Linked DNA regions of Homo sapiens. The protein of the gene in region 3 interacts with the protein of the main gene of each other region in a biochemical or structural test. Each region holds a gene or a part of one and is shown on either strand. Other genes may lie near its edges.

Region 1 (7,101 bases), on a different chromosome or scaffold from region 3:
CCGAAGTGCTGGGATTACAGGCATGAGCCACCGTGCCCAGCAATTTTTGTAATTTTTATTTTTGTAGAGACAGAGTCTCCCTATGCTGCCCAGGCTGGTCTCAAATTCCTGGGGTCAAGCGATCCTCCCTAATGTTGAGATTTCAGGCATGAGCCACCACGTTGGCCTGAAATGTACAGTTGAATGGCTAGTGGCTGCTCTAGGGGGGCACTGCAGGCCTAAAGGAAGCGGGTAGCCGGGCCAGGGTGGAGGGCTAAGATAACAGAGCTTTCCCAAGCAGAGCCCAGAGCCCAGGGAAAGGATGCTCCATGCAGAGTCTCGGAAGTGAGAAGCGAGGGAACTGGGAATGGTTGTGAATGGCTGGAGGAAAGAGGCAGGAGGGGGTATAGTGGGAAGTGCAGGAAGTAAGGGTTCATCCCAAAGGTGCGAACTTCATTCCGAGAGGGCTCCCTTTCTCTGCACTTCTGGTCTCAAAGATGGAGAAGGGAGACACATGGGGTGACCTGGCAGAAGCTGGGGAGTCAGGGCCCCGAAGTGCCTGACCTTGGCTGATTCTCCCTGTTACTCATCTAACACTTGCTTGTAGAACAGCAGGCCCTATGCGGGGACCGGGGACTCAGTAGGAAAGGAGACTGATAAAGTCACTACCCTACCCTCAGGCAGGTTTCATAATGACTTCCATGAACCTTAGGCACTTTTGCCCTTCTGCATTAAAAAAAAAAAAAATAGGCCAACACGGTGGCTCATGCCTGTAATCTGAGAACTTTTGGGGAGGCCAAAGTGGGAGGATCGCTGGAGCCCAGGAATTTGAGATGAGCCTGGGCAACATAGCAAGAACTCGCCTCTGCAAAAAAATTTAAAAATTAACTGGATGTGATTGTGCCTGCCTATAGTCCCAGCTACTCAGAAGGTTGGGGTTGGGATCGCTTGGGCCCGGGAGGCCAAGGCTGCAGTGAGCCGTGTTAACGCCACTGCACTCCAGCCCTGTCTCAAAAAAAAAAAAAAAAGTTTAAATTTTATGACTTTGTTGCTGCAAAGACCGATATTATCCAGGGTACAATTTTCTCTTTTCTTTTTTTCTTTCACTTCTACTTTGAAAAGAAATGAAAACACTTCCCCTAAAAGCATCATGGGCCCTAGACACTGTAGGTGCGATGCCTGGGATACATCAGCCCCGCCTTCAGGGAGTTTCTAGGCTAGTGGAGGAAACAGACAGCAAGTAAACAAGATGGTTTCTGGGGAAGAGAGATGCTGTGAAGAAAATGGGACAGAGGGAAGTGCAGTCTGGGTAGGGGGCCGGGGAAGGTCTCGCCGAGGAGAACTTCGCGCTGAAAAGGAACTGTGACAATAAGAGGGAAAGCTGTTGCCGAGAGAACCAGGGCTCGCAGGTGTTCTCCAATGAGGGTAGACCTGGGGCTGACAGAGGAGAAGGAAGAGGTGGGGGTGGAGGTGGACCAAGGGAGCAAGTGGGAAATGGGGGCAGGGCTGGGTCCCGCCTGCAGGACCTGTCTTCGTGTGGGCTTCCCTAGAACGGGAGCCGGAGGTGGGGATTCCTGTACCAAGGGTTTGCTACGGGGGAACCTTCAGGGAGTGTGGGAGACTGGCTGGGGTTGTGGAAGGAAGTCAAGCAGACACGGTTCACGCTGGAGTGGGAACCCATGGGGTCAGGCTGGGCACCCCGGCTTTAGTGCTGCCTCGGGCCTCCGTATCCGTCCATCGTGGGCTGTGGGCTGCTCCAGGAAGCAGGGACACATAACGGACTGGGCGAGTCCAGGACTCTGAAGGAGGGTGATTCTTAAGGGCTGCAGGCAGGTGACCCTCCCAGCAGTGGGTGAGGGATGGGATGCTGCATCCAGGGGGAGGGCAGCTGCAGGGGCACCAGCAGTGCCTGCCATAGAGGGTCTTGTAGACCAGAGTTGGGAGTTTGGTCCCCTCTGATCTCCTCCTAACTGACATGGGATTTCAAGCAGGGGCAATAGCATGCTTTTTGAAAGATGCCTCTGACTCTTGTGTGGAAAACAGACTGGAACAGGGTGGGGGATCAAGGATGGCAGCAGGGAGATGAGGGAAGAGGCTGCTCCATCCCGGAGAACACTGGTGGGGACCTGGATGTGGGCAGTGGCTGGAGGAAGGAAGCAGATCAAGAGTCGATGGAAAATCTGCTTTCTTCTCCTTTCTTTCTCCTTCCTGCCCAGACTTGAGGCTTTTCATTCCCGCAGAATTCCCTTTCGCCTTCTTTTCTTTTTTTTTTTTTTTTTTTTTTTTTGAGACAGAGTCTGGCTCTGTCGCCCAGGCTGGAGTGCAGTGGTGTGATCTTGGCTCACTGTAGCCTCCACCTCTCCACCTCATGGGTTCAAGTGATTCTCAAGCCTCAGCCTCCCGAGTAGCTGGGATTACAGGCGCCTGCCACCATGCCTGGCTAATTTTTGTATTTTTAGTAGAGAGACGAGGTTTTGCCATGTTGGCCAGGCTGGTCTTGAACTCCTGACCTCAGGTGATCCTCCTGCCTCAGCCTCCCAAAGTGCTGGGATTACAGGCGTGAGCCACGTTGCCCGGCCTCCTTCCACCGTCTTCACACTGCTCTCCCTTACGGCAGGGGCTTAGGGAAGGAATGGGGGCAGCCGTATAGTGAAGCCACAAGCCTTTCTGCGCTGACTGATCTCTCTCTATCTTTTCTCTCTCTCCCCCTCTGACTGCCGCTCCAAAGTCGAGCTTCGATCCCCACCACCGTGCCCAGCCAAGTTACGAGCGTCCTTCTTTCCTGCCTCCAGGACCTGGGTTGATGCTCCGGCAAAAATCTATCGGTATGCCACCCAGAAGAAGAGATGTGGGGGCTGGGGGAGGCCAGGAACGTGACAGTTCAGGAAAAGCAAGCAGACTTGGAAATGTTCTGTGCTCCCAGAGAGACCATAGTTTCATCAAATTGGGTTAAGAGTTCAGGCTTTGGAAATGGGTGAACTTGGCCATGAATCCTGGCTCCCCTCCTTCCCAGCTGTGTGAACTGGGGCAGGTGGCTTGACTTCTCTGGGCCTCTGGCTCTACATCTGGAGAATGGGGATGCAGTGAGCTAAAGCCCCCGCTACAGCTTTCTGGTTGTTTCTCTTATACCCGATTCCATCCATTCATTCATTTTACAAGTGTTTACCAAGCGCTCCCCACATGCCAGGAATTGTTCTAGAATGGGGATACGTCAGCGAATAAAACAGACTAAAGGTTCCTGCCCTCATGGGCTTGCCTTATAGCAGGGGAAGACAGATAATGGATTATAAGGAAAATAAGCAAGAAAATTATCTAGTATGTTAGCAGTTGTACGTGCTATGGAAAACAAAAAAAAGAGTGGGCCGGGCGCAGCGGCTCACGCCTGTAATCCCAGCACTTTGGGAGGCCGAGGCAGGCAGATCACAAGGTCAGGAGATCGAGACCATCCTGGTTAACATGGTAAAATCCCATCTCTACTAAAAATACAAAAAATTAGCCGGGTGTGGTGGCGGGCACCTGTAGTCCCAGCTACTCAGGAGGCTGAGGCAGGAGAATGGCGTGAACCCGGAAGGCAGAGCTTGCAGTGAGCCGAGAACGTGCCACTGCACTCCAGCCTGGGCGACAGAGCAACCCTCTGTCTCAAAAAAAAAAAAAAAAAAAAAGAGTGAAAAAAAATAATGGAGTAAGGTAAGAGAGATAGGGAGTGCTGGGTAGGGGGCAGGGTGCAGGTTTGAGCTAAAACCTATAGATGGGCCAGGCACAGTGGCTCACACGTGTAATCCCAGCACTTTGGGAGGCCGAGGCAGGCGGATCACAAGGTCAGGAGTTCAAGACCAGCCTGACCAACATGATGAAACCCCATTTCTACTAAAAATACAAAAATTAGCCAAGCGTGGTGGCATGTGCCTGTAATCCCAGCTACTCAGGAGGCTGAGGCAGGAGAATAGCTTGAACCCGAGAGGCAGAGGTTGCAGTGAGCAAAGATCGCACCATTGCACTCCAGCCTGGGCGACAGAGCGAGACTCTGTCTCAAAAAAAAAGAAAAGAAAAAAAAACACCTAGAGATGAAGTGGGGAATCGTGAGGCTCCCTGGGGTTGAGGCATTCCAGGCAGAGCGAACTACCTCTGCAAAGGTCCTGAGGTCGGGCTGAGTCTGGTGCGTTTACAGAACAGGGAGGAGGCCTGTGTAGCAGGGGCCAAGTGAGCACTGGACATGAGGGCAGTGGGGGGACAGGGTCCCGATCCTGCAGGGTCTGGGGAGTCATGGTGAGGACTTGAACCTTTGCCCTGAGTGAGGTGAGTGAATGGCAGGGCTCTAAGCAGAGGAGGGACATGAGCTGACTTCGGTTTTAACAGAAACCCTCTGGCTGCTGTGAAGGGACTAGATTGAAGGGGATGAGCTGGGAAGCCGGGGGACCAAAGAGGAGGTGACAGCTATTGCTATCCAGATAGGAAATGATAGTGGCTGGCCCAGGGTGTTGACTCTGGAGGGGTGAGAAGGGATTGGATTCCGGATATGTTTTGAAACAACAGGATTTGCTGGTGGATTGGATGTGGGTGACTTGAGGAAGAAAGCTAAGAGTGGCTGCAAGGTTTTCAGTCTTAGCACCTGAAAGGACAGAGCTGCTGTTTGCTGCGGTGGTGGGGAGGGACCGTGGGCTGGGAGGAGTCTGTTGGTGAGGAGATCAGGAGCTTGGGTTGGAGCGTTTGGAGTCTGAGATGCCCGTGAGACAGCCAGCTGGGTGTGGGTATTTGAATATAGGGGCCCAGAGCTCAGGGCGGAGGATGGGGCCCCAGGCATAAACGTGGGCGTCGACAGCAGAAAGGCAGTGAATGAAGCTGGTCACTAGTTGAGAGGGAGTAGTCAGAGGTGAGAAGAGGTTCAAAGACCGAGCCTTGGCAGTGAAGTAAGCAAAGACTTAACTCCTGCACGCCTCCTGGAGTTGTTTTTCCCTGATTGGATTCAGCTTTCCCCAACTCCTGGCGTTCAAAGTCCACCAGTGTGAGTCTTACACTCCCACTGAGTGTGGGGTCCACCTGGCTCGCATCGTTTACCTGATTTTTTTTTTTATAGATCCAATCCCTTTTAAACTTTAGCCTCATCATAAGTGGTTCTCTCTGTAGAATCACAGCTTTGATGTGCTGGTTGCATTTCTTTCCCGCATATACGTGAAAAGAAACACGCATCTATGCATAAACACGAGGGGACTATCCCTTCCCAGCTCCAGCCACTTTTGCTGGCCCCAAACCGTTCACTGAGCCTTTGAACGGAATTAGAAAATGGCGCCCCCTCCTGGCGTGGGGAGGAAGTTCTGCTGAATTTCAGTTTCCTCACCTTCCTTGCGGTTTGCAGTTGTGCAGTGCACAACCTGTACCTCTGTATGAAGCAGATTTGGGTTTACCTCAAATAGGGAAGAGCTGGGCGAGTCCACGTGAAGTTCCTGGCATATACGGGGTGCCATTCTTGTCATTAGTATTGTTGCGGTTCTATGGGATAGTGGAGCAGGGAGACCCTCCCCGCCAGGGTCCCCCTCCTTGAGCCTCTGTATCTCCCCAGGTGCGGCAGAAGATGACAGACCTTACCTAGCACCCCCAGCCATGAAATTCAGCCGCAGCCTGTCTGTGCCTGGTTCGGAGGACATTCCCCCGCCACCCACCACGTCCCCACCGGAGCCTCCCTACAGCACACCTCCAGTCCCCTCCTCCTCAGGGCGCCTCACCCCCTCCCCTCGGGGAGGGCCCTTCAACCCTGGCTCTGGTGGCCCCCTCCCCGCCTCCTCCCCTGCATCCTTTGACGGGCCCTCCCCTCCCGACACTCGCGTGGGGAGCCGCGAGAAGAGCCTGTACCACAGTGGGCCCCTGCCCCCGGCCCACCACCACCCGCCCCACCACCACCACCACCACGCCCCGCCCCCTCAGCCCCACCACCACCACGCCCACCCCCCTCATCCTCCCGAGATGGAGACAGGCGGCTCTCCCGACGACCCTCCACCCCGCCTGGCTCTGGGGCCCCAGCCCAGCCTGCGAGGCTGGAGGGGCGGCGGGCCCAGCCCGACCCCGGGGGCCCCGTCCCCATCGCACCACGGCAGCGCGGGCGGGGGCGGCGGCTCCTCCCAGGGCCCGGCTCTACGCTATTTCCAGCTGCCCCCGCGGGCGGCCAGCGCAGCCATGTACGTGCCCGCCCGCTCGGGCCGCGGCCGCAAGGGCCCGCTGGTCAAGCAGACCAAGGTGGAAGGCGAGCCCCAGAAGGGCGGCGGCCTCCCGCCCGCGCCGTCGCCCACGTCCCCGGCCTCCCCGCAGCCGCCGCCCGCCGTGGCCGCGCCCTCGGAGAAGAACTCCATCCCCATCCCCACCATCATCATCAAGGCCCCGTCCACCAGTAGCAGCGGCCGCAGCAGCCAGGGCAGCAGCACCGAGGCGGAGCCCCCCACCCAGCCGGAGCCCACGGGAGGCGGCGGCGGCGGCGGCTCCTCGCCCAGCCCCGCCCCGGCCATGTCACCCGTGCCCCCGTCCCCCTCGCCCGTGCCCACCCCCGCCTCGCCCAGCGGCCCGGCCACGCTGGACTTCACGAGCCAGTTCGGGGCCGCCCTGGTGGGGGCGGCCCGGAGGGAGGGGGGCTGGCAGAATGAGGCGCGCCGGCGCTCCACGCTGTTCCTGTCCACCGACGCGGGGGACGAGGACGGCGGGGACGGCGGGCTGGGCACAGGGGCGGCCCCGGGCCCGCGGCTGCGCCACTCCAAATCCATCGACGAGGGCATGTTCTCCGCCGAGCCCTACCTCCGACTGGAGTCTGCGGGCAGCGGCGCGGGCTACGGCGGCTACGGGGCCGGTAGCCGAGCCTACGGGGGTGGCGGGGGCAGCAGCGCCTTCACCAGCTTCCTGCCCCCGCGACCCCTGGTGCACCCGCTGACCGGCAAGGCCCTGGATCCCGCCTCCCCGCTGGGGCTGGCCCTGGCCGCCCGCGAGCGAGCGCTGAAGGAGTCCTCGGAGGGCGGCGGGGCCCCCCAGCCGCCTCCCAGGCCCCCATCGCCCCGCTACGAGGCCCCGCCGCCCACCCCGCACCACCACTCGCCCCACGCCCACCACGAGCCAGTGCTGCGTCTCTGGGGGGCCTCCCCGCCG
Region 2 (6,970 bases), on a different chromosome or scaffold from region 3:
AAATTTCTCTGTCTTCTATTGATCTCTATGTGTCAGTAACCCTCTTTAATTATTACCTTTTAATGATAGATTTGTTGTGTTTTAATATCTGGTAGGATTAGTCTATACTCATTATGTCTTTTATTTTCAGAAGTTTCCTACTTGTTTAATTTGCCATATGACCTTTAAATCAGCTTTTCTAGTCCCTCCTTATCTCCCACCAGAAGACTCTTAAAATTTTTCATTGTGATACACTTAGAGATTAATTTAAGGAGAATTGACATCTATATGAAGCATCTTCATATGAAGACCAAGGTGTCAGCCCCCTTGCCTCTGCTTTTTGGTGGCTAGTGACTCCCAAATTTGTACCTCTATTTTGAGCACAAGGTCTGTTCCTCACCCCTAGGAATCTCCTCTTGGATAGGGGGATCCCAAAGATACCCCATACCCTGATCCCATACTGTCCCTCCAGCTTAGTGCATTCCCCCTTCTCTTTAATCTACTCAGGTGCTCAAGCCAGATCCAGGGTCTGAAGTTGTCTTTGGTCTCTCCTGGTGTCCAAGAGCCATATCTAACCAGTGACTAAGTTCTATTTTTTTTTTTTTTTTGAGACGGAGTTTTGCTCTTGTCGCCCAGGCTGGAGTGCAATGGTGTGATCTTGGCTCACTGCAACCTCCATCTCCTGGGTTCAAGTGATTCTCCTACCTCAGCCTCCCTAGTAGTGGGGACTACAGGAGCCCACCACCACGTCCAGCTAATTTTTGTATTTTTTAGTAGAGACAGGGTTTCGCCATATTGGCCAGGCTCGTCTCTCGAACTCCTGACCTTATGTGATCCGCCCACCTCAGCCTCCTAAAGTGCTGGGATTACAGGGGTGAGCCACTGCGCTCAGCCTGTGGTATATTTGTAATCACTGATGAACCAATATTGACACAATATTATTAATTCAAGTCCATAGTTTACATTAAGGTTCACTCTTAGTGTTGTACATTCTGCAGGTTTGGATAAATGCATGTCATGCATCCGTCATTACAGTATCATACAGAATAGTTTCGCTGTGCTAAAAATGCCCTGTGCTCCATCCCTCTCCTACCCCTCTGAATCCCTGGCAACTGCTGATCTTTTTACCATTGCTAGTTTTGCCTTTTCTAGAACGTCATATAGAGTTATTGGAATCATACAGTATGCAGCTTTTTAATACCAGCCTCTTTTACTTAGCAATATGCGTTTAAGGTTATGCTATGTCTTTTTGTAGCTTGATGGCTGATTTCTTTGTATCGCTAAATTTTAAAGAAATTGCCAAACTGTCTTCCAAAGTGGTGGTGATCATTTTACCCTCTCTTGGTGTATGACAGCTCCAGTTCTTCTATATCCTTGACAACATAACAACACTTGGTATGGTTGATCTTAACTTTTAGCCATTCTAGTAGGTGTTCTTTTAGAAGCAGTCCTTCTAGTGGCTTTAATTTGCATTTCCCTAAGAGTAATGCACTCAGTGTTTTTTAATGTGCCTATTTGCCATCCAGAGATCTTTTTGGATGAAGTGTCTGTTCAAATGTTTTGTCCATTTTTTGACAGGCGCGGTGGCTCACCCTGTAATCCCAGCACCTTGGGAGGCAGAGGCGTGCAGATCACTTGAGGTCAGGAGTTTGAGACCAGCTTGGCTAACATGGTGAAACCCTGTCTCTACTAAAAATACAAAAATTAGCCTGGTGTGGTGGCGGGCGCCTGTAATCCCAGCTACTGGGGAGGCTGAGGCAGGAGAATTGCTTGAACCCAGGAGGTGGAGGTTGCAGTGAGCCAGGATCGCGCCACTGCATTCCAACCTGGGTGATGGAGCGGGACTCCATCTCAAAAACAAAAACAAACACCAGAAAACAAACAAATGTTTTGTCCATTTTTATTGGATTTTTATTCAATTGTAAAAGTTCTTTATACAAGTCCTACATCAGATAGAATTTTTACAAATATTCGTCCTAGTCTATGGCTTATCTTTTCATTTTTAATAGTTTCGTGCATTTTGAGAAACAAAAGCGTTTTATTTTGATGAAGTTCAATTTATTGATTTCTTCTATCATTTACACTTTTTGTGTCATATTTAAGAAATCTGGCCAGGTGCCAAAGCTCACACCTGTAATCCCAGCACTTTGGGAGGCTCAGGCAGGAGGACTGCTTGAGCCCAGGAGTTCATGACCAGCCTGAGTAACACAGCAGGACCCCATTTCTACAAAAAATTTAAAAATTAGCTGTGTGTCGTGGCACGTGCCTGTAGTCTCAGCTACTCAGGAGGCTGAGGTGAGAGGATCTCTTGAGCCCAGGAGTTTAAAGTTACAGTGAGCTGTGATCAGGGCACTGCACTCCTGCCTGGTCAATGAAAGCAAGACCCTGCCTTTAGAAAAGAAAAAAGAAATCTTTTCAAACCCAATATTGTTAAGATTGTCTCCATTTTTAAAAAAAAAAGTTTTATGGTTTGGCCATTTATATTTAGGTGTGTAATCCAGTTTGAGTTAAATTTTGATGGTGTATCCTAAATAGTTATCAAATCCATCTACTTCTGCCTGCCACCTCTCTAGTTTAAACCACCCTTCTCTGTCCCTGGACACCTGCGCAGAAAGCCTAGGAGCTGGTTCCACCCATCACTCACCAGGTTAGGTATTTCAGGCAAGTCACACCCTCTCAGGCCTCAGTTTTCCTCTTTTGTTAACTGAGGGTGAAAGTGGGGTTAGATTAGATCAGCGGCTCTTAACTTTTGAGGGGTCGTGGGCCCTAGAGTCCTGGGAACGCTATGCAGTTTCCTCAGCAAAATGCTTGCATCCACAACATGCAAGACTGCAGCAGCTGCTGGGCTGGGGCTGCGAGACCAGCGAAAAGCCCTGACTTGGGGGGGTCTCGGGAGTCTCTGCAGTCTCCCCACCCACACCCCCGGCCTCCGCGCCGAATCCTGGCCCCCCAACTTCTTGCAGCCCGTGAAGCAGGATCTCAGGGTCCTGGGGGTGGGGAGAGGGGGCTGCCGTCCTGCTCGCAGCCTCTGCCGCCCTCTCCTGGGTAAGGTGACACATGGGCGCTTCCAGGTGGGTGGGCTGAGAGCCTGGGGGAGAGAACAGGGATGTCCACCTCTCTAAGTTTCCAGGTTCAAGAAACCCCAGAACGTTAGAGAAAGATGGGCTCCCACAATTGCCCAACCCCATCCCATAGGATGCACGCATGCGGAAAGTCGGGCCGAACGGGGCAGGGACTTACCCAAGGTCACGCAGCGAGCCCGGTCCCCCTGCGTTCCCCGGGGAGCGCTGAGCCGGGACGCGGCGGTGGGGTGGGGAAGGGGAGTGGCGCGGCCCTGCGGGGTGAGGCTGCCGTTTGCTGAGTGTCCGGCAGGGGTCTGCTCGCTGCCAGCCCGGCCCCTCCTCAGAGCAGCTGCCGCAGCCCGAGGTAATCTCGGCCCCGCGCCGGGGCTGGCTGGGAACGGCGGGAGCAGCTGCGGTCGCGCGGAGCGAGGGGAGCTGGGGACCGGGCGGGCCCGGGGCTGCGGGAGGCGGCGCCGCCGCACAATCGCCCCGGAATGCCCGCCAGGGCGCGCGTGGGGTGCGGCCGTCCGGCCCTGCAACTCGAGCTGCTGCCCCTGGTTAAAAATACCCCCTGCCCGGCCCTCCCCCTCCGTTCCCCGCGGTGCCCTTCCGCCGCGCCCCAGCCCCCCCATCCCCCCCCGCGCTGGCCCCTCCCCGGGGACTGCTCTGCCTTTTACTAATTTGTCCTCTCGCGGAATTGGCCCCCGGCCTGCGGAGGGAGGGGCGGGGAGACACCGTGAGTAAGAGATAGTCAGAGACCGTGCCGGAGAGATAAGGGAGAGCCGAGAGGAAGCGGGGTAGGAGCCCCAGGAGGAGGAGGAGGAGAAGGAGAGAGGGAGGGCGGAGGGCGGAGGGGCGGCGGGAGGAGGGCGGGGAGGAGCGCTCTTCCTGGTTGGGCCCTGCCCTGAGCTGCCACCGGGAAGCCAGCCTCAGGGACTGCAGCGACCCCCAAACACCCCTCCCCCAGGTAAGAAGCTGGGTAGCCGAGCCGGGATTCCTTGACCCTGGCCACTGCTCCTGGGCTGAGGGGCTGCCCCAGCACGGTCCCTTCTCGGGGGCCTCTGCGTTCCTGGAGCAGGGGTGGGGGCTGGCGGAGCGGCACAGCCCAGGCGCCTGTCCCAGCCTGGCTCACCGCTGTCCCCAGGGGCTGGGCTAGGGCCCACCAGCTCTGATATCGAGCCTGCTGCGGGGGCCTGAGGAGGGGGACCCCGACCGTCTGGGGTTTTCAGCCCACGGCAAGGGGCCGGTGCACCAGGAGCTTGGTTAGTTTGGGGAGGGGGTTGCAGGCCTGTGAACAGGATCAAAGAGGCCTTCCCTGCTGTGTCCCACCTGCCCAGTTCCTTGTGCTGTCTGGAGGCTCCGCCCTGCCCCACCTGACCTGCTGGCTCACTACAGAGCTGCAAGCCCCTGACAATGGGATCCGGGAAAGGAGAGGTGGCCGGCACGCCTGGGAACTGGGAAATCCCTTTCCTGGATTCACTGGGAGCACCGGGAGGTGGCTGAGAACCCTACTTCTGTGAGGGGAGCAGTGAGGCAGGGAAACCCTAGGTTTGGGGATGGATAAGCAGGGGCAGGAGAGCAGAGCTTGCAGGCAGGAGCCCAGGTTCTAGTCTTGGGAAGGCCTGGGTTCTGAGCAGGCCCATCTGTCCGGCAGGATGTCGGAGGAGATCATCACGCCGGTGTACTGCACTGGGGTGTCAGCCCAAGTGCAGAAGCAGCGGGCCAGGGAGCTGGGCCTGGGCCGCCATGAGAATGCCATCAAGTACCTGGGCCAGGATTATGAGCAGCTGCGGGTGCGATGCCTGCAGAGTGGGACCCTCTTCCGTGATGAGGCCTTCCCCCCGGTACCCCAGAGCCTGGGTTACAAGGACCTGGGTCCCAATTCCTCCAAGACCTATGGCATCAAGTGGAAGCGTCCCACGGTGAGAGGGGCCATCCTGGGTGGGACTCGGCTAAGCCAGATCCTGGATGAGGAGTAGGGATGGGACTCCATGTCCCTGGTGGGGAATGGGGTCTGGGGTGGCCTGGTGCCAATTTCTGGGAGGGGCTGGCCGAGGAACAGGACTCTGGGTCTCTCGTAGGAACTGCTGTCAAACCCCCAGTTCATTGTGGATGGAGCTACCCGCACAGACATCTGCCAGGGAGCACTGGGTAGGCCCCCAGGGCGTCGGGTCCCGGGTATTTTTTCCACAGTAGTTCCCCATTCCCGCTCCTTCAGGCTCTGCCCCAACCCCTCCCTCTTGCAAGCCCAGGCAGGATCTGGCTATCAGCGCTGGGGCTGGTTTGCCCAGATTCCTGGGTCTTTTCTGCAAGCTGAGGGGAGTTAAGTGGCACCCTGGCCAAGGAACCCCAGATTCTCCCTAGCACCCGCTTCCCCCCCCGGGGCAGGTTGGTAGAGCAGGCTAATGTGCATCCCTCCTGCCCCAGGGGACTGCTGGCTCTTGGCGGCCATCGCCTCCCTCACTCTCAACGACACCCTCCTGCACCGAGTGGTTCCGCACGGCCAGAGCTTCCAGAATGGCTATGCCGGCATCTTCCATTTCCAGGTGAGGGCTCCCCTGGGGAGGAGGGGCAGCAGGCACTGGGGGAGATGCGGAAGGATGACCCACAATACCTGCAGTTAGGGCCACACCCTGTGGGGCCAGCCCTCCCTCTAGCAGGTATTTGACCTCTCAGTGCCATCTCGGGTCTGTCATGTGTGAAGTGACTGGGCTGGGCAGGTATTTCGGCTGGCAGTTTTCCTAGGTGGTTGTATGTATCAGGTGGAAAGTGCTTGAAAGAACAGAAAGACTTTTGTGTTATATCCTGTGGGACAAATTCCACTCCTCCCGGAGGTCGGTCTCAGTTGCCCCATCTGAGAAAGGAGTGTTCGCTGGGGAAAACAGATCAGCACGTGTGGCCTTCTCCACGTGTCAAGCCTCCTATCCCCCAACTCCTCCTGCGCTTTGGCAAGGTCTGACTGAGCCCAGCAGAAAAGAAAGACTCGGGATTAAGTCTACGTAAACCAGCTTTTCCTGACGGTGTGCCCAGGGCCCATTTTTCAAGTCACACCAATCAATTCTCAATGAGCTGCCTTTGGGAGGGACATGCCCAGCAACCCTGGATGAGACTCTCCAGCCTTGGAGGCCCCAGCCCTGCCCGAAGGACTCTTGGGTGTTCCCTCCTTCTGCCTGGTTAGAGAGCCCCTTACCCTACTCTGTCCTTGCCCGCCTTGCGCGGGTGGAGGTGGCCCTCGGAACCCAGGGTGCGGAACCCACAGTGCGGATCCACTTTGGCCCAGCGCCACACCCACCTGCTCCAGTCTGCAGGGGCGCAGTCTCGCCCCCTTCCCTCGCTCCTCCAATCCGCTCCTCCCTGGCCTCCGATTGGCCAGTTCAGTACCCGCCACCCACACTCTCCGCAACCTGGGCTCCTAGGGCCGCCTCCACCCCGCCCCGCCCCCCGTTGTCCTGGCCCCGACCCCTCAGATGGTACCTCGAGTCCTTGGTCGCTTCTGACCCCAGACGCCTTCGGCCCCGACCCTGCCCTGGGAAACGTGGCCTTTGTGGCATCTCAGAAACAAAGCCCGTGATTGTGAGAACCAGTCCTGCCCATCTTGTGGTTGTAGGATCTGGATGCCACATTTTCACTGCTCATCCAATGACACAGGTGCCCCTAACCCCCTTGAATAGGGAGGGAAGAGCCAGGGGGCCATGGCCTAAAAGGGGGCTAGTTCCGGAAAGCCCAGGCCCCAGAGCTTTTCCACCTCTCCGTGCCTGAGGAGGAACCCTGTTTGTTCAGTGACTCCCTAAAGGCTTTGCCTGTGCTCTTGTTTAAGTCTTCCGTGAAGAAGGCACCGCTGCTCCTTTTTATGGATAGGGAAACTGAGGCTCAGAGGCGATAACTTTTCCAGGATCATGTAGCTAGTATGTCTCGAGCATACATGTACA
Region 3 (7,929 bases):
AATGGCAGAATGTTGATAACTGTTGGAGCTGGGTGACAGGCCTATGGAAGTTCACTGTATTAGGGTCCCCAGAGAAACAGACCAATAGGAGACGGATGGATGGACAGGGATATGATGAGATTTAATTACGAGGAATTTATTCATGAGATTATGGAGACTGAGAAGTCCCACAATCTGCCATCTGCAAGCTGGAAACCCAGGAAAGCTGGGGTTGAAATTCTAGTCTAGAGACGAGGTTTCATCATGTTGGTCAGGCTGGTCTCGAACTCCTGACCTCAGGTGATCCACCCTCCTTGGCATCCCAAAGTGCTGGGATTACAGGCGTGAGCCACTGCGCCCAGCCTATAATTCTTACTTAAATGGACTGAGTACCATTCATGTAACCTAAAATTCAGTAACACTTCAAATATTTTCTCAAGTCAATAAGTATTATATCATGAATATAGTCTTGAATTTATGAATCGTAATTAATCATTTTTCACTTGGTGACTAGGTTATGCCTAATATATTTTTTTAAATTATTAACATTCTTTTTTTTTTTTTTTTTTTTTTTGAGACAAGGTCTCACTCTATTGCCTGAGCTGGAATGCAGTAGCACAGTCATGGCTCACTGCAGCCTTGACCTCCCGCGCTTAGGTGATCCTCCCACAGCCTCCTGAGTAGCTGGGACTACAGGCGCAAGCCACCACATCTGGCTAATTTTTGCATTTTTTTGTAGAGATGGGGTTTTGCCATGGTGCCCGGGCTGGTCTTAAACTCCTGGGCTCAAGTGATCTGCCTGCCTCAGCCTCCTAAAGTGCTGGGATTGCAGGTGTGAGCCACCACGCCCGTCCTGAATGAAAATGCATCTTGTCCTGCTTAAGGCAGATTTCTAGATGTAACTAACATTGCTGGGTCAAATGGCATGCAAATTTTATATTTTGATCCACATTGCCAACTGCTCTTCCAGAAAGGTTCTACTTACATATACTCAAAATGGGTAAGATTTTCAGGCAGAAAGGAGGCATGAGTGTTGGGAAAGGATGTTCTAATTGGAGGAAAAAATTGTTCACAAAAGCATGGAGTTGGAGAAATAACATGTTTTGGAAAGAGGCTAACCTCAGACCAGTAGAGCAGAACTGTAGGGAATGATGCTGTGAAAAGGTAAATTGGAACAAGATTGTGGAGGCTGCAAATTTCGGCCTATTCCGTAGGCAATGGGAAACAACTGAAACTTGTTGAGAAGGTTTGACGTGATTTGTGAAACTAACTGTAGTAGTGGGTTCAAGGTAAGCAGGAGGGACACGGACTGACCAGGCCTAGCAGGCAGCCCTGCAAGGGAACAGATGTGAAATGACCGGAGCCAGATTACAAGGTCGGATTAGGGGAGGGGAGGGAGGAGTTTACATCTCTGCTGTCACCTGGAGTCTTAAAACCCTGGTAAGGCCACACTCCCAGAGCCTATCAGGCTGCTTCTCTAATGTGGTGCTTGATTTTAGAAGCAGGGGCTTGTGTTTTGCTTTGTCTTTTGATTGTAGTAAAATATATAGAACATAAAAAGTTTAACCTTTTTTTTTTTTTTGAGACGGAGTCTCAATCTGTCGCCCAGTCTGGAGTGCAATGGCGCGATCTTGGCTCACTGCAACCTCCGCCTCCCGGGTTCAAGCGACTCTCCTGCCTCAGCCTCCCGAGTAGCTGGGATTACAGGTGTGCACCACCACACCCGATTAATTTTTGTATTTTTAGTAGAGGCAGGGTTTCACCATGTTGGCCAGGATGGTCTCAAGCTCCTGACCGCAAGTGATCCGCCCGCCTCAGCCTCCCAAAGTGCTGGGATTACAGGCGTGAGCCACCAAGCCCTGCCTAACCATTTGTAAGTGTACAGTTCTGTGGCATTATGTACAGTCACAGTGTTGTGCAACCATCACCACCATCCTCTCCAGAACTCTCTTTCACCATCCCAGACGGAAACTTTCCCACTAAACAATAATAACCCATTCCTCCCTCCCCTCAGACCCTGGTAACAACAGTTTTTTCTGTCTCTATGAATCTGACAATTTTAGGGATCTCATATAAGTGGAATGGTCATACAGTATTCATCCTTATGTGTCTGGCGTATTTCACTTAGCATAAAGCCTTCAAGGTTCATCCAGGCACTGTGATTTGAAGAGCTGTGTTATTTCTTGCCAGCTCTGACACTGCAGAATGTCATATGGGAAGTGCAGTCCACTTGCCAGCATGACTCTTCCCAATCAGCTCCCTTCTAGGGAAGAAAAATAGTGGAAGTGCTTGCCTGTTATCTTTGCAGGGGGTGAGACAGGGTGTGGAGGGGAGGGGAGGGGAAGGGGTCTCTCCCAGGGAGAGTGGGCAAGTGACTTTCCCTGGCTGGAACATATGGACACATCACCACAATTAGTGTGTTTTCCAACAGTTGACCTTTTCAACAACCTGAAAAAGTATTGGGACTATCTAGACGCTTAAGCTTAGGGTGCCTATCAAACCTTCTGAGGATTGCTGAAACTAGAAAAAGGAGTTGAGAATTCAGTCCAACCCTCTGCTTTTTAGGAGGCCAGGAGAGGTGTGACTGAGAACATGGAGTTGATTGGTTACAAAGTCGTTACACTGTCCTGTGCTTTTTCTGTTGTTGTTTTTTCCCCCAGCTTTCCACACCTACTAGGGTGTTAGGCATATGGTGAAACTGGTGGGAGGTGAGGTAGGCAGACAACAGAACAGTGAAGAATGGCTGGTTTCAAGTGCCAAGTGCAGAGAAGGCAGGGTGAGTGGGTGGGAGGTGGAGAGCGCTGGGGATACTGTTTCTTGGTCATGTCTCAGATCACACAAAGAATCAAATAAGATTTTAGTTTCTCTATCAATACAGAGCTCTCTCTTAGGTCTCCATTTTGCATCCAGCAAAAGCAGCAGAACCCCCAGTTCACTATGGGGCCAGGGTGATTTAATAGAAAAACCCTCCCTTTTGAACAGCTCCTGCCCCTCAGTCCCAAGGTGCTTTCTTTGCTGGAGCAGAAGGTCTTGGAAATTTTAGGGAGCTACAATTGTGTTAGCCATTTTGTACCCAGAGCTGAATATCTGATCAAACATTTTACTGCAACCTGCTGGAGAAGAGGCCACGGATACCATCAGCTGTTCTCAGAAATGCACACTCCAGGGAGGAGTTGCTCAGCGCTGTTTTCTCTACATAGAAGATTGCAGGAAATGCCTCTCAGCTCCTACGTTTCTCCTACACAGATTCTCTAAAGCAGCTTCTGGGGTGTGGTCACTGCTTTTCTCTCCACTCCAATGGAGTGAGTGGGTAGGGAAATTTTTCCTCAGTATCATGGCTACAGCCAGGACAGCTTAGAAACCGTATTGCAGGTCCCAGGCACGGGGAAAGAAGCCAAACTGCAGAGGGCCAGGAAGCTCAGGGCCAGGTCTGGGCCCAGATTCTGGTGCAGTGTCCAATGACTTTATATTTATTTAAAGAGGAGAGCTGCTTGGTAACCAGGAGGCTGAAGCCTTCCTAAGCTGCAGAGCTCCCCGTCTGCCTGACTGCACAGGAATGATCTGGGTGTTACTCCCAGTGGCTGCGGCCCAGCTGTCACCGGAATGGGGATAGGGAAAGGGCTTCCTAATCCAGGGCTTCTGGCTACAGAGTTTAGAGCCAGGACCTTAAACTGCTAGGACTTTAAGTATCAGAAATTCTGAGAATCTTATTTTTCTCTTTCTGCACCCCAGCAGCCACCCGCATCAAAATGCCTCCCTTTCCTATTTGAAGGCAATACACATACGGTTGCAAAGGGAAGGTTCTGACTGCTGAGATGTAAATCCTAGCTCTTCCAATTGGTAGCTGCCTGACCTGGGCCAAGAGACTTAGCCTACATGAGCATTATGTAAGAGTGCCCATTTGTAAAATGGGAAAACATCTCATAAAATTATTGCAAAGATTAAGAAATGAAAAGGTAACACGAAATACTTAGCATAGTGCCTAGTACACAAGGCAAGTTCGATTAATTGTGCCAGAAAGAACCTTAATGTCTTGTTTATGAAATAGGATGAATGTAGCCTATTCCACTGGCGACCTGTGAGAAAGCTTTTGTTGCAGGAATGTAAGAAATTATTATTTTGCCGCTGCCGTTTCCTCCCCCATAATCTCCAAGAACATAAGAAATTAACTCTCCAAATCCCAGAATGACAGCTTTATGCCCCAAATTAGTCGACTTAATTTTTTTTCTGATTCGGATTTGGCCTTTTCCTCTCACCACCTCCTCAAACCCGGGGCCCCAAATCATCCGCGTCTTCTTGACCCCAGCCCCCACCGAATTAGGCTGACTTGGGACCCCAGCGCCAGCCTCCTCCTCGGGAAAGTGAGCAGGAAGAGACGCACTCGGGTGATCTCACCCTTTGGGACTGGGCGTTTTTCCGGCCGGGGCGCGCAGCATCCCCAGCCAGACTGCAGCGATACCCCCGCCCCGCCCTTCTCCGCAGTCCTGGAAGAGCTCCCAGGGCGGAGTGGTGCGATGCAGACGACTGTCCGCAGGGCGGGCGGTGGCGGGGCGCAAGCTGCGGGGAGGGAGGTGAGGCGGGAGCGTCTCTACCGCCAGGGCGTAGGCAGTGACCTCACTGCACCATCACCCCTCACCCCTTGCGCGCGCCCCATTTCCCCATCCTCCCGCGGCCCGCCCCTCGCTCACCTCTTCCCCCGCATTGTCGCTTCGGCTCCTTCCGGGATCGCTCGGCCCTTTCCGCCGGGCGGTCGGGCGGCGAGCCGGCGGGAGCACCGCCCCCTTTGCTCCGCCGGCGCGCTCCCCCACCCCTCGCGCAGCGCCGGGGCGCTTCCCCCGGCGCTCGCGCCCGCCCGCCGCGGGAGCGCGCGTAGCCGCTTATAAAAGAGGCGGGGCGCGCGCGTCGCCGCCACTACCCGCTGCGGAGTGAACGGTGTGGAGCGGAGGCCGCGGAGGCTCCTCGGTCCTTCAGCACCCCTCGGCCCGACGCACCCACGCCCCTCACCCCCCGAGAGCCGGTGAGAGGGGCAGCCGGGGAGCTCCGGGAGGGAGCGGGGCCCCGGGCAGCCGACCCCCGGGTGGGAGCTGGGCAGCTCTTCAGGCGGGGCGGGGCCGGCGCGCGGACAGGTGAGCCGGGCGGGCCGCGGGGCTGCCTCCATTCGGCTGAGTGGGGGAAGCCGCTGCCGCTGCTTTTGTGGCGCGTGGGCTGCGGAGGAGCAGCCGGGCCGAGGCTCGGCGCCGCCGCTGGAATGTCACTGACGGGGGGAGGGGGCGCGAGGCCGCCGGGTCCCTCCCAACCACCCCCAAGCCTGGCTGCGGCGCGGCCCTGCCCTGCCCCATCCGGCTGCGGCAGGTGGGTGGGGGCTCCCTCGTCGGGATCTTCGCCAGCCGCCTCCCTGCAGAACGCTCCCCGCACCGCCCCCGGTCCCTTCCCTCGGCCGGGAGCGACTTCTGCAGCTCGTTCTTCCGAATCGCACCAGCAATGCCGGCCAGCCGTAGAGGGAGGAAGAGCCCGGGGAGCCCGAGCATAGCGTAAACGGCTCTCTGACCTTAATTTCATCCTGCATGGCGAATCTCTGCCGTCTCTCTGAACGCAGAAGGGTCTGAGACTGGCCGTCTCCTTTTCTTTCCTTGTAATAAACATTTTTCTTTCTTCCTAGTTGTGATTTGCTTGTAAATAATAGGTAAATGCAGTGCTTGCATGGTATGTGGCTCAAATCAAATAACTTAATAGCTTAGCGTTCTTGTTTGTGTGTGTGTTTCCTGGGACTGGGTCTTTCGAGTCGAGATACAGTGTCAAAAATTCTACCATACCACTGTTGAATGATAGAACAGTCTTTTGTTTGAAAGCTGTCCCTGAGAATTTGATTAGACGCTTCCCCTAGAACATCGCTTTCAAAAGTCTCTGATGTACTAGAGTAAAATATATTTTAAATAAGCGCCTTGTTAAAAGTTGAATATGTTTTAAATGAAAAGCCTAAATAGCTCAGAAAGCTGGGTTGAGATGATGCTTGAACTGTTCCAACATCTAATCAGATCTCTTTTATATAATAGATCCTAAAATATTTAAGCCCTTTGTTCTGTCTTCATCATGTTATTTTAGAAAAACTTACCATCATGGCTGTTCGGGAAGAACAGGAGAGAGGCCATATGAAGTATTTTCATAATGTGTTGAGAAATTGCGTCGTCATAGCAATTGGCCTTAAGTAAAACAGAATGTATCAAAGATGGAAGGGTGGGGGTGTCTTGGAGCCAGGAAACAGAAAATCTTGGAAATAGCAGGAGGAACACTCAGCTATATGAAGCCATTGAGTCAAGGTTCCGACTCCTTAACTAGTCGTTTATTTTCCCTTTCATTGCAGCTAACTAATGTCTTAGATTTTGAAAGGTCAAATTGAATGTGCTGCGGAGGAAAAAAAAAGTGCTGCAGTAAAGGCCTCTGTGCAGGAAATTAACAATAAGCCTTTTTTAGTAACTGGGCCAATAATTACTCAAAGGGACCCTCAAAGTGTGTTAACTGTTATCCAGGGACCTTGATGGAGAGACTGGAAAGGAGGATTTTTGCTTCATCCTGGACAAGTGTGAAGCAGTTCTTATGGCAAACCATCAGCCTAGTAACTGATTCTCTGATATGCTTTGGTCTTGGCAGTGTGTTTTGTAGTCATCTAATAATTGGAGAAATCTGGTATGTCACAGGCTGCAGTGTAAGCCTGTCAAGCAATATGATGAAGAGGTGCACATGGGGAGAGCTGTTTTAAGTATGTCTTTTGGTTCCCTGGGTTAGAATTTTTTCTGCTTTTTCTTACCTGCCTTCATCCAAAGTTGGGGGTCAACTGCAGATCCTGAAAAGTGGATCTCAGGAATAGTCCCCCATGTCCTGTCACTGCTGAATCTACACTAAGAATGGACAAGTGTGTTCAAGGCTGGCCTGCCTTTGTAATCAGTCCTCCGTGGGCTATGCAGGGATCCCACTAGTTACGCACTCATCTGTTGCAGCATATCAGCTGCGGCTGTACTGTAGAAGAATGCAACGCCCTAGTGGCAAATGCTGACTCCAGGAATGCGGAGGAGGAGGAGGACTGCATAGCTCATCACTGGGGGCCACTTGACTGGAGCAGCTGTGCTGCAAACCATCACCTCTCTTCCACCTTTTTTGCATATTCCTCTTGTACCAATTTTGAACAGGAAATAGTATTTTGTAAAGTAAGTGTACTGGCAAACTAGGCCCAAGTCAGATCTTTGTGGCTTGAGTTCTACTTTGTGGCAATTTCATGAAGTCATGCTCTTTTATTGCTGAATGGAAGGGGATTTAGGAATCATCTTGTCCTGGGATCCTCAGGAGGAAGGCATGTTTAGTTTGAAAAAGTATATTCGGTATTATTACTTTAACAAGTGGGGAAATTGAGGCCCCAAGGAGAATGAGACTTGACCAGGGCAGCATATCTAGAAAGTAACTGCCAAGACCTGGGAACCTTGGTTCTCCTTCCACATTTTAAATCCCTTGTGGGATTTAGACGCTATACAGAATGTCAGAGAGAAGACACTGAAAAAATATCTGAAATTGGATTTTTAATCTGTATTCATATTTTTTAAATAATCTGTTTTCTTCATGATTTTGTTCCGTTTGCCCTTAGAAGCTTGTTATCTTGCTCTTCCCCCTCCCTCTTTAGACTCCACATTCCTCCATCATGTTGTCATCGTTTCGTAAACGCAGAGTCCAGGTATTTGACGAGCATGCAGAAAACGGGTTGCCTTTTTGGTTTTGCCTGGCTTGCAGTGAAGGCATATTCGTGTCAAAGAGGTTGAATGATCCAAAGAAAGGGGGAAAAAAACCCTGCCTGCATGACGTTTCTGTTAAACAAATTGGTTAGGATTTGTTTGGGGTTTTTTGGTGTTAAATTATCAGAAGTATTAGTAAATTTACTTGAAAATTTGCAAAGCCTTTTTTTTT

Evidence for each region.
Region 1: the proteins of SPTAN1 (region 3) and SHANK1 form a complex in vitro, tested with the Homo sapiens proteins (one study listed by BioGRID).
Region 2: of the proteins of SPTAN1 (region 3) and CAPN1, one has a biochemical effect on the other in vitro, tested with the Homo sapiens proteins (one study listed by BioGRID).

The regions. Positions count from the first base shown.
Region 1 is NC_000019.10:50,667,721-50,674,821, reverse strand, and holds part of SHANK1 (SH3 and multiple ankyrin repeat domains protein 1), read left to right. Parts: intron 1-2,707; coding exon 2,708-2,804; intron 2,805-5,536; coding exon 5,537-7,101. UniProt on the Homo sapiens protein: Seems to be an adapter protein in the postsynaptic density (PSD) of excitatory synapses that interconnects receptors of the postsynaptic membrane including NMDA-type and metabotropic glutamate receptors via complexes with GKAP/PSD-95 and Homer, respectively, and the actin-based cytoskeleton.
Region 2 is NC_000011.10:65,178,006-65,184,975, forward strand, and holds the start of CAPN1 (calpain-1 catalytic subunit), read left to right. Parts: upstream 1-3,922; 5' UTR 3,923-4,008; intron 4,009-4,446; exon of another isoform or gene 4,447-4,536; intron 4,537-4,695; 5' UTR 4,696-4,696; coding exon 4,697-4,963; intron 4,964-5,122; coding exon 5,123-5,192; intron 5,193-5,468; coding exon 5,469-5,587; intron 5,588-6,970. UniProt on the Homo sapiens protein: Calcium-regulated non-lysosomal thiol-protease which catalyzes limited proteolysis of substrates involved in cytoskeletal remodeling and signal transduction. Proteolytically cleaves CTBP1 at 'Asn-375', 'Gly-387' and 'His-409'.
Region 3 is NC_000009.12:128,547,701-128,555,629, forward strand, and holds the start of SPTAN1 (spectrin alpha chain, non-erythrocytic 1), read left to right. Parts: upstream 1-4,886; 5' UTR 4,887-4,996; exon of another isoform or gene 4,997-5,611; intron 5,612-7,648; exon of another isoform or gene 7,649-7,666; coding exon of another isoform or gene 7,667-7,699; intron 7,700-7,929. UniProt on the Homo sapiens protein: Fodrin, which seems to be involved in secretion, interacts with calmodulin in a calcium-dependent manner and is thus candidate for the calcium-dependent movement of the cytoskeleton at the membrane.